Linked DNA regions of Homo sapiens: region 1 is linked to region 2. Evidence: fine-mapped expression QTL. Tissue or cell type: whole blood. Region 2 holds a variant in brackets; the other region holds the start of a gene. All regions are shown on one strand. Distances are between the middles of the regions.

Evidence for each region. PIP is the estimated chance that this variant, and not a neighbour inherited with it, causes the effect.
Region 1: it holds the start of SLC39A11, and the variant in region 2 is fine-mapped to the expression of SLC39A11 in whole blood (TOPMed, PIP 0.95).

Annotation. Positions count from the first base shown.
Region 1 is chr17:73,090,007-73,095,383 of GRCh38, forward strand. SLC39A11 (solute carrier family 39 member 11) reads right to left here and starts at 2,682. Exons shown (of 10, transcript NM_139177.4): 1 at 2,605-2,682. RefSeq lists enhancers at 1-139, 140-640 and a silencer at 1,611-1,842.
Region 2 is chr17:73,056,903-73,062,279 of GRCh38, forward strand. The region is part of intron 3 of SLC39A11 (solute carrier family 39 member 11); the gene reads right to left. Among named protein-coding and RNA genes, the nearest start is that of SLC39A11, 33 kb to the right of the region's middle. The variant C/T (reference allele first, on the strand shown) is at 2,513.

The DNA of each region.
Region 1 (5,377 bases), 33 kb after region 2:
CATATCAAAGCCTCATTCATCTCCCTGATGGTCTGCCAGCACCCAGAGGGCTGGCTGGACACAACCACACTGGGCTCAGCCCTGCCAGTTCCCGGTGCTCTGTGAGGAGCCAGCAGCCCTGAGCCTGCAGATCAAGAGCTGAAGACGCTGCCTCGATTGACCCTGGAAGGAAACCATGGCAGAGTGTGGACGCAGCCCTTATGCCAAGCGGCTCAGCAACACACCCAGGCTCAAACCTAGGAAGGGTATAGGTCCAGGTGAGCCCAGGTGAGCCCTGGCTCAGCCCCTGTGCCAGAAACTCTGAGATAAATAGCATCTATGGAATCAGACTCTAGTTCCCGCACTCTAAACGAACTGCACCAACTGTGAAAACTGTGACCACGCCAATTAAAGAAAAAAAAAATCATTTTCAAAAAACTACTACCCTTTACATCCGTCATCTTGCTAAGCCACCCTAAAAAGAGGGGTTGGTCTTTGTTTTTAAACCAAGCCATCTGGACCATTACACCAATCATCTATTCCGAGTTGCTGTGGACAAAATTTCAAACAGCATTTACAAAGAACAGCACAAAGGGATCATCCTCTTAGTACTTATCATCCAAGACAGGGCATAACAAAAACACCTTTCTTTCCTGTATTTGAATGTGCCTCTTGACAGCTACAGAAGAGAGCAAACAATTTACATTTGCCAACAGGCCAAAGTCAATGTGGATCTTGTGGGCTGGTGAACAGAACAGAGGGAGCTCGTGGGTGTTCCTGGTGGTTAGTGGGATAGGGAAACACCCGTCTAAGCCTGTCCCCATGTATATCTGAGCACCCTCCTGAGTAAGAAAAAGGGACACAGAGGGAAGACCGAGGCCACCATCCTTTCCATCCCAACAGGAGCAGCATTGATCACGGGCAATGCAAGCCCAGTGCCCCTCGGAGAAGTTTCTTCTCTATTTGCTGTTTTAAATCCTCGCTACAAGGGTGGTCAGAGAACCAGCAGCACTGGTCCGGCTTGGGAGCTAGTTAGGAATGCAGAAACTCAGGTCTCACCCCAGACTTTCTGAATCAGGGTCTGCATTTTGTGGAATTCCATGGGGGATTCTTATGCACATTAAACTGTGGAAAGCAAAAGATTAAAACTGGTAAAACTTGGCCAGGCGCAGTGGCTCATGCCTGTAATCCCAGCACCTTGGGAGGCCAAGACGGGCAGATCACCTGAGGTCAGGAGTTCGAGACCAGCCTGGCCAACACGGTGAAACCCCATCTCTACTAAAAACACAAAAATTACTTGGGCGTCGTGGTGTGTGCCTGTAGTCCCAGTGCCTGTAGTCCCAGCTACTCGGGAGGCTGAGGCAGGAGTAATCGCTTGAACCCGGGAGGCGGAGGTTGCAGTGAGCCGAGATCGCGCCACTGCACTCCAGTCCGGGTGACAGAGCAAGGCTCTGTCTCAAAAAAAAATAAAAATAAATAAATAAATAAAACTGGTAAAACTTCTACAATACCAAGAGCTTAGAAAATGAGTTCTCCTGCCCCATGTGGGATTGGCAAGAGCAAAGAAGAGTCCCAAAAGAACAGAAAGTTTTCTGCAGAGTCTCAAGAGAAGAAAAAGTTTCTGGCAGAGTCCCAAGAGAACAAGAAGTTTTCTCTAACCGGCAGACCAGTAACAACTTTAGGACACAGCATCTCCATCACAGCTTACACAATGGGGCTCAGAATTCCTCACGATGGGGATATTAATTCCATCAACCCTGATTCGTTAGCAGCAGGGAGAATCATTCTCTGACCGTTCCAACTTTTAACATGCCAACAGCCTGTAGACTTGTACACACCTGCCACAGCAGCACATGGGCATTCCCGGCTGATTGATACAGGTTTGTTTTCTTTATTTCCTTTCTCCCCCTTTTAAACCTGTTGTTCCGCTTCCAAGAGTCAGTTCAAGAGGCTGGTGAAGTTGCAGAAGTGGAAACAGCACTAGGGCTGCTGGGCCTTAGTGGAGCTGCACACACATGCCCTAACTCCACGAGGGGGAATCCAGCAGAAGGATTCAGGTCTGGGCGGAGAGGACTGTGGAAAAGTTCTCTAATGCCTCGCTACTCAAAGCGTGGTCCGCGGACCACCCAACCTGGGAATTAGTTAGAAATGCACACTGTCACGCCCCACCCAGACCTGCTGCAAGTTAACCAGATTCCCAGTCAAGTTCCAGAGGTCCAGCTAACAGCCAGAGCAAGTGGGAGGGGCCTGGGAGCAGCTGGATTTGTAGCTGCCTCTGCTCCCAGGAATCCCGGGTACCCCCACACACCGCCTAGGAAGGGACGAACGAAGAGGATTTGGGTTAGGACTGTAAAAGGAAGGCATGTCATTGCCTTCCAGATCACCCTGGAGAGGGACATAGCCGGGGTCCGGGGACTTCCTTCCCACCGCCCCTCACCCTCCCACCCCGCCCCGACACCTGCCAAAGCCTCCAATTTCTCCTCCAAACCCCTCCTCTCTCCAGGCGTACCCCCTTCCAAGCTCCAGGTGGCTGCCCTTCCAAGTCCCACACTCTTGTCCTGATGGCCTCCGACCCCGGGCCTCGAGCCCAACCAAAGGCACCGAAGGAGAGAAAAGCCAACTCACTAGGGTGCCCTCTCCAGCCCCCACTGCACTTCCATCAGCCCCCGCTGCCACTCTCTCGCCGGCTCCACTCCCGCAGTCACTTCCTGCTTCCCTCCCGCACACGTGGCCCTCCCGCCTCCGGGCCCCGCCCCCTTGGCCGCAACTGGCAACTCCCGCCTGAAGAATAGATTCTCTGGTTCACAGCCGTCTGCAGGCTCAGGAACAGATCTGGGCGGGCAGAACAGAGCCCTGAGGCCAAGAGCCCAGCAGTCTGCGAGTGACTGCAGCCCTAAGGGAAGCTACAAACACCCAAGGAAAGAGCCCTTTGTAACACCCCTGATGTTACTTATGCTTCTACACCTTTGGCAGCCAGGTCCATGCCACTGGGTGCGCAGCAGAGCAGGATGTGCTGTGTGTGTGTTGCGGGAGAGGCTGGGGGCGGGTAATGTGATGGCATCGGCATCATTCTCCAGTCAATGACCCTCAAAAGAATCACTGGAGGGGGTCAAACACAAAATGCCAGCACCCCCAGAGGCTCTGGTTCCGTCATTCTGGGTGGGGCTGACATTTTGGGATTTTTTTGTTTTTGCTTTTGTTTTTTTGAGATGGAGTCTCGCTCTTTCGCCCAGGCTGGAGTGCCGTGGCCCAATCTCGGGTGATTGCAGCCTCTGCCTCCTATGTTCAAGCGATTCTCCTGCTTCAGCCTCCCGAGTAGCTGGGATCACAGGTGCATGCTGCCAAGCCCCGCTAATTTTTGTTTTTTTTTTTTTTTTTTTTTTTTTTTAGTAGGGACGGGGTTTCACCACGTTGCCCAGGCTGGCCTCGAACCCCTGACCTCAAATGATCCACTCGTGTGGGCCTCCCAAAGTGCTGGATTATAGGCATGAGCCACCGCGCCTGGCCTGAGATCTTGTTTTGAGCTAGGAGTTGCTGATGCTGCTGTCCTGGGACCACCCTTTGAAAAGCACTGCCCTAGGTCAAAGGCTTTGATCTGCAGGATTTCTGTGAAAAGACCAGAGGATAGGATTGACTAGATTTAGCCAAAAACAAAACAAAATAAATAAATAGATAGAAACAAGATGCCTGGGCTGGGCGCTGTGGCTCACGCCTATAATCCCAGCACTTTGGGAGGCCGAGGCGGGCAGATCACAACGTCTGGAGATCGAGACCATCCTGGCTAATACGGTGAAACCCCGTCTCTACTAAAAATACAAAAAATTAGCTGGGCGTGGTGGCAGGCGCCTGTAGTCCCAGCTACTCGGGAGTCTGAGGCAGGAGAATGGCGTGAACCCGAGAGGCCGAGCTTGCAGTGAGCCAAGATCACGCCACTGCACTCCAGCCTGGGCAACAGAGCAAAACTCCATCTCAAAAAAAAAAAAAAAAGCCTGATTAAATTTGAATTTCAGAAAAATAACGTCATTTATTACTATAAATATGCCCCGGGCAATGTGTGGGACATACTTATGTTACAGGCATATTTGTTGTTGATCTGAAACTGAAACCCAGCTGAGTGTCCTGTGTTTTATTTGACAACATATCAGAGCGTGACCTGAGCAGAAAAGCTACCCGTGGTCTCGATGGCCATAGCCCAAAGGGTCCAATAACAGGCCTCTTTCTTCCAGTGGAACTAGGTTGTTCACACTGACGGTCGCACCATATACCAAGCACTCCATGGGGAGGAGAAGACAGCCTGGCCACTGGAGGGTGGTCTTTGCCCTTAAAAGACCCCCAACTTGGAAGAGTCAAATCAGCCATTGCAATTCCACATAAGAGAGTATGTACAGGCACACAGAGACACAATACCCATGTGGCACGGCCCATCAACTCATCTTCCAAAATGTCATACCTCTTCCTGCACGCTGCAATAGCCATAAAATGACACAATATCTTAGACTCACTTCAAAATATGATGGAAGAGAAAAGTGGATGGAGTAGAGATTAAACAAAATTGGCCATGAATTAACCATTCTTAGGCTGGGCATGGTGGTTCACACCTGTAATCCCAGCACTTTGGGAGGACAAGGTGGGCAGATTGTTTGAGCCCAAGAGTTTGAGACCGGCCTGGGCAAAAAAGCAAGATCTCGTCGCTACAAAAAGTTTTTAAAAAGTAGCTGGACATGGTGGCAGATGGTAGCTGGGCCTGTAGTCCCAGCTACTAGGGAGGCTGAGTGGGGAGGATCACTTGAGCCCAGGAGTTTGAGGCTGCAGTGAGCCGTAATGGTGCCACTGCACTCCAGTGAAAGACCCTGTCTCTTAAAAATAAAAAATTAACCATTGTTGAACCTGGGGAACGGGCACGTAGAGGTTCATTAAATGTTTCTGTTTCTACTTTTGTGGATGCTTAAATTCTTTTCTTTTTTTTTGAGACGGAGTCTCGCCCTGTCACCCAGGCTGGAGTGCAGTGGTGCAATCTCGGCTCGCTGCACCCTCCACCTCCCAGGTTCAAGTGATTCTCCTGCCTCAGCTGGCCTCCCAATTAGCTGGGACTACAGGTGCGTGCCACCACACCCAGCTAATTTTTTGTATTTTTAGTAGAGACGGGGTTTTGCCATGTTGGCCAGGCTGGTCTCAACCTCCTGAGCTCAAGCAATCCACCTGCCTCAGCCTCCCAAAATGCTAGGATTACAGGAGTGAGACACTGCGCCCAGCCGCTTAAATTCTTTATAATGAAAAATAAACAGAAATGTTTACAACGATCCACAAAGTGCCTCTCCTGCCCAATCCTTTCTCTCCTTTCTCACTGCTGCTGTGAGGATTCAACCTGCCCATCCCTCATCTAGGTCATGGAGTCACC
Region 2 (5,377 bases):
ATTTGTGAGGCACATTAGAAAAGGAAGAATCAAAACACCCCAAAAAACAATGGGATGCATTTTTTTTCTTTTCCTGAGACACAGTCTTGCTCTGTCACCAAGGCTGGAGTGCAGCGGTATGATTTCAACTCACTGCAACCTCTGCCTCCTGAGCTCAATTGATCCTCCCTGCCTCAGCCTCCTGAGTACAGGCACCTGCAACCATGCCCAGTTAATTTTTTGTGGGAGATGTATATACATGTATATCAAGATGGGGTTTCGCCATGTTGTCCAGGCTGGTCTTGAACTCCTGGGCTCAAGCCACGCACCCGCCTTGTCCTCCCAAAGTGCTGGGATTACAGCAGGGGCCGCTGCACCTGGCCAGGATGCACTTTTAACTGGTTTGCAGGGGCATCTAAATGATTAAATGAATCAAACATTGCCTCTTTTAATAGATTCTTTATAAAAGGCAAATAGAAAGCTTAAGTGACTCATTGATGAGAAAAAATATTTTATGTTGACTGACAATTCTGACCGCACCTTTTCTCTATCTTTCTATCCTCCTCTGCCTAGTCTGAATTTACTTTTTCTCTTAGTAACCTTCCAATCTTAAAAACAAAAACAAATAAAAGTGATTTATAAAAGTTAAGCTCTCAGATCAACGAGGTCTGCTTCTTTAGCCACTTTTATGGTTTGGTGAAAATCTTAAATTCAGCCCTGTTCATAATGGGTTTCCACCTGAATTCAGTAATCTAGTTAGAAAATGCAGGCTGAGGCCAGGCGCGGTGGCTCACGCCTGTAATCCTAGCACTTTGGGAGGCCGAGGCGGGCAGATCACTTGAGGTCAGGAGTACGAGACCAGCCTGGCGAACATGGTGAAACCCTGTCTCTACAAAAATACGAAAATTAGCCGGGAACATTGGTAGGTGCCTGTAGTCCCAGCTACTTGGGAGGCTGACGCACAAGAATCGCTTGAACCCCAGAGATGGAGGTTGCAGTGAGCCAAGATCGTGCCACTGCACTCCAGCCTGGGGGACAGAGCAAGACTCTATCTCCAAAAAAAGAAAACACAGGCTGGCTTGGGAAGCTGCCTATCTTTAGTTATTTTAGTTATTTCGTTTTAGACTCTTTTTTTTTTTTTTTTTTGTAAAAGAAATTTACTTCTGTGGGAAAAGTCTCCATTTGTGGGGTGTGTCCCTCTTTGCACCCTAAATCACTAGAAACTTTCAAAATGGAGAAGGTCAAGACTTAACTTTGTTTCACAGGCCTTGCCTTTCACCATTTTGTCTTCACCAGGCTTGCGTGTTTGTTTGTCTTGGCAAATAATACTATTTTGGCCTGAAATCTGGTTATCAGGCTAGCTGACAATCCCTGGGGGCAATAATGAGTAATCGAAGTGTCCTCTGATTTAACCCCCTTGCTAGAATGAAAACAGTCGGGGGATAAAGAAAATATCCGCAGAGTAAATGCGGAAAAGATAGATAGGTCCTTGGAAGAATGGATGATGGGCCAGCTGGGGTGGCCTTCTGATCTCGTCTCCTGTGATAGGAGTTAATCTTGGCCGGGTGCAGTGGCTGACATATGTAACCCCAGCACTTTTGCAGGCCCAGACGGGCAGATCACCTGAGGTCAGGAGTTTGAGACCAGCCTGGCCAACATGGCGAAACCCCCTCTCTACTAAAAATACAACAATTAGCCAGGCATGGTAGCAGGCACCTGTAATACCAGCTCCTAGGGAGAAAGAGGCAAGAGAATTGCTTGAACCTGGGAGGTGGAGGTTGCAGTGAGTCGAGATCGCACCACTGCACTCCAGCCTGGCTGACAGAGCGAAACTCTGTCTCAAAAAAATAAAAAAGGGTTAATCTTCAGAAGACTGACGCAGTTGAGTTCCTTTTGTAGGATCTGTCTTTTGGCAGATGAAAGAGAACTCAGGAGGCCTTGCCCTGTGTTTTGCCTTCAACTCAAAGTAATTAATATACCAAAAATGTGACTACCAAAGCAACACATTTTGGGGTGGCATTCCCTGAATGCTTTCAATGGCTAGTTTTGTTTAGTGAGCAATTAAATAATAACTGTTAAAAAAAAAAGAATAAATTAGGTGAATATGGACAGCATAAAAGTTTATAAATGAATTTGTCATTGTTTCAAAAATCTTTTGCAGCAATTTGGAATTTTAAAGTAATAGATATTTATAAAATGTCTGAGTCATTTCTTAGTTAAAATACTAGAACATTAACTGCTAAACATAAGTTTCAAGTATAAATACTTTGGCATCTTGGTTTTGTACAATATAGAGAAGCTGAATATATTTGGGTTTGTTCATAAACATGAAAACATTGTTCTAGGAGGAAGCACATATTTCTAGAAATTACAAATGTATATTCATGAAATGTTAGTATATAACAGTTTAAAATTGTTTTACTTCTTATGTTTTCACTAGAAATTGAGGTTAGTAACAGTTTAAAATTCTAATCAATATAAGCTAGTGAAAACTGGAAATAAGCCCAGGCATAGTGGCTCACGCCTGTAATCC[C/T]AGCACTTTGGGGAGGCTGAGGCAGGCAGATCACCTGAGGTCAGGAGTTCGAGACCAGCCTGACCAACACGGTGAACCCCTGTCTCCACAAAAAATACAAAAATTAGCCGGGCATGGGGGCGGCTGCCACCTCAGGAGGCTGAGACAGGAGAATCACTTGAACCTGGGAAGCTGAGGTTACAGTAAGCCGAGATCGCGCCATTGCACTCCAGCCTGGGCGACAAGACTGAAACTGTCTCCAAAAAAAAAAAAAAACTGGAAATAATATGGGAAACAACTCCATATGCAAGGAAAAAAAAGATATGTTTTTGTTAAGTGAAGCTATGAGGTATGAAATATGTGTCTTTGTTAAGGAAAAAAAGAGTAATTTTCACCCTAACGTAGAATGACAGGTTGCCCCAAAATGAGAAAGAGGGAAGGTATAGATAGGATAAATAAAAAACTGATGGAATATAAGAAGGTTGTAGGAGGTTTGTGGACGGTGAATCATGTGAAAGAAATTTTATTGTGATCAGCAGGGCGTGGTGACTCACCCCTGTAATCCCAGCACTTTGGGAGGCTGAGGCAGGTGGATCACCTGAGGTCAGGAGTTCAAGACCAGCCTGGCCAACATGGTGAAACCTGTCTGTACTAAAAATACAAAAATCGGCCAAGCATGGTGGTGGGTGCCTGTAATCCCAGCTACCTGGGAGGCTAAGGCAGGAGAATTCGCCTGAAGCCGGGAGGCAGAAGTTGCAGTGAGCCGAGATCACGCCACTGCACTCCAGCCTGGGCAACAAGAATGAAACTCCATCTCAAAAAAAAAAAAAAAAAAAAGAAAGAAAAAAGAAAAAAAAAGAAAACAAGGTAAAAAAAAAAAAGTTGGGGGGTTTCTTTACCTTTTAGGAAACTGGCAAAGGAAATGAAGACTGCGTTCTACCAAAATAACTTTTTGTCCTTCACGTTGTCTTTATCAGGTTTTTGATAACTATAGAAAACTATTAAAGAGCTAAGGTTTTTCCTCCAAATATGTTGCTTTTTATATTCACCTTTGAAGTCTTTATCACTCTGGTTAAATTAATGACTATTATTTCATAGTTACTTGTGATCCCATTTTGATGAAATGTTTTAAACCTTGGTGATATTTAAACCAAAATCAAACTCTAAATTTAGTCTTTCTGACCAAGAATTAACTTTGGGATTCTCTTGCTGGGCCCTGAGAAAGCCTCAAAGGATACATCTCTCACCTTGTAAAGGGGAGATATTATACGAATTAGGCTTATTTAGTATACTAAATTATATGGGAAGTACTGTCAAATAATAAGTAATGCTGAACCTTCTTTGAATTTTACTCATATGTGTTCTAGAAAATTGTTTACAATTTTTAGAAATTTGATACGTGATCAGCCATAATTTCAGTTATTATGTTAAATGGTTGTATTCCACAGAAACAACTAAATTTCCTTGTCAATTGTGTCATTATTGAATGAAATTTCAACAGCTCTTTAACCATGGACATTTTAAGTCCTGTCACTCACAGACGGTTGTTTGCTCGGTACTTTCCTAAGCAACTATAAGCCTATATAGTTTTGTCTTCAAGGAGGCTCACGGAAAAGATTCTGACAAGTACAGGTTTGTGATTACTTTAAGATCGTATCATTAAACTGGGTAAGAATTCTCAGAACTCACCGAGCGTGGTGGCTCATGCCTGTAATCCCAGCACTTTGGGAGGCCAAGGCAGGCAGATCCCAAGGTCAGGAGTTCGAGACCAACCTGGCCAACATGGTGAAACCCCGTCTCTACTGAAAATACAAAAATTAGCCGGGAGTGGTAGCAGGTACCTGTAGTCCCAGCTACTCAGGAGACTGAGGCCAGAGAACCGTTTCAACCCAGAAGGCAGAGGTTGCAGTGAGCTGAGATTGCACCACTGCACTCCAGCTTGGGCAACAGGGCAAGACTCTGTCTCAAGGAAAAAAAAATTCTCAGAACTCGTATGAAGAAACTCACTGGTTCATAAAACTGTTAACCCACCATCAAAAGAACAAGAATTACTTAAATGCTAAGTCAGATTTTCATGCTAAGTCAGTTGATTGTGAAATTGTTAAGATATAGAAGCTGAATGAACTCCCTAAGATTTATCCAAGTCAAATCACCTATGATGACCTATTCATTGGACAGGGTTATGCATCTTAATTGGAGAAATAAAACTTGTACTTGAAAGGATGTAAATTCAACATTAAGCGTAGACTCATAGAGGGCTTAGACAACTACTTGGTCTTTTCTGAGTCCTTAAAGCTTCCATTATTAAAAGTTCTGTGCAGGCTGGGCAAGTGGCTCATGCCTACAATCTCAGCACTTTGGGAGGCCAAGGCGAGTGAATTGCTTCTGCTCAGGAGTTCAAGACTAGCCTAGGCAACATGGTGAAACCCCATCTCTACAAAAAAACACGAAAATTAGCCGGGTGTAGTGGCCCAAGCCTGTGGTCCCAGCTACTCAGGGGGCTAAGGTGGGAGGATCACTTGAGACCAAGAGGTCAATGCTGCAGTGACCTCGTGTGATCACGTCACTGCACTCCAGCCTGGGTGACAGACTGAAACCCTGCCTCAAAACAAAACAAAAAAAATCCTCTGTTCCATGACTCTTCATACCACAGACAAAATGAAACAAATTATGGAAAAATAATGGTGTGGCGACTGTTCTAGAATTACTAGGATGGTTTGTAACCAGTGAGTGCTTAGTTTGTCAAACTCATAATCCTGGAAAGACAATCAAAACTTCAGATGAGGCCGGGCGCAGTAGTTCATACCTGTAATCCCAGCACTTTGGGAGGCTTAGGCAGGCAGATCACATGAGCTCACAAGTTCGAGACCACCCTGGGCAACATAG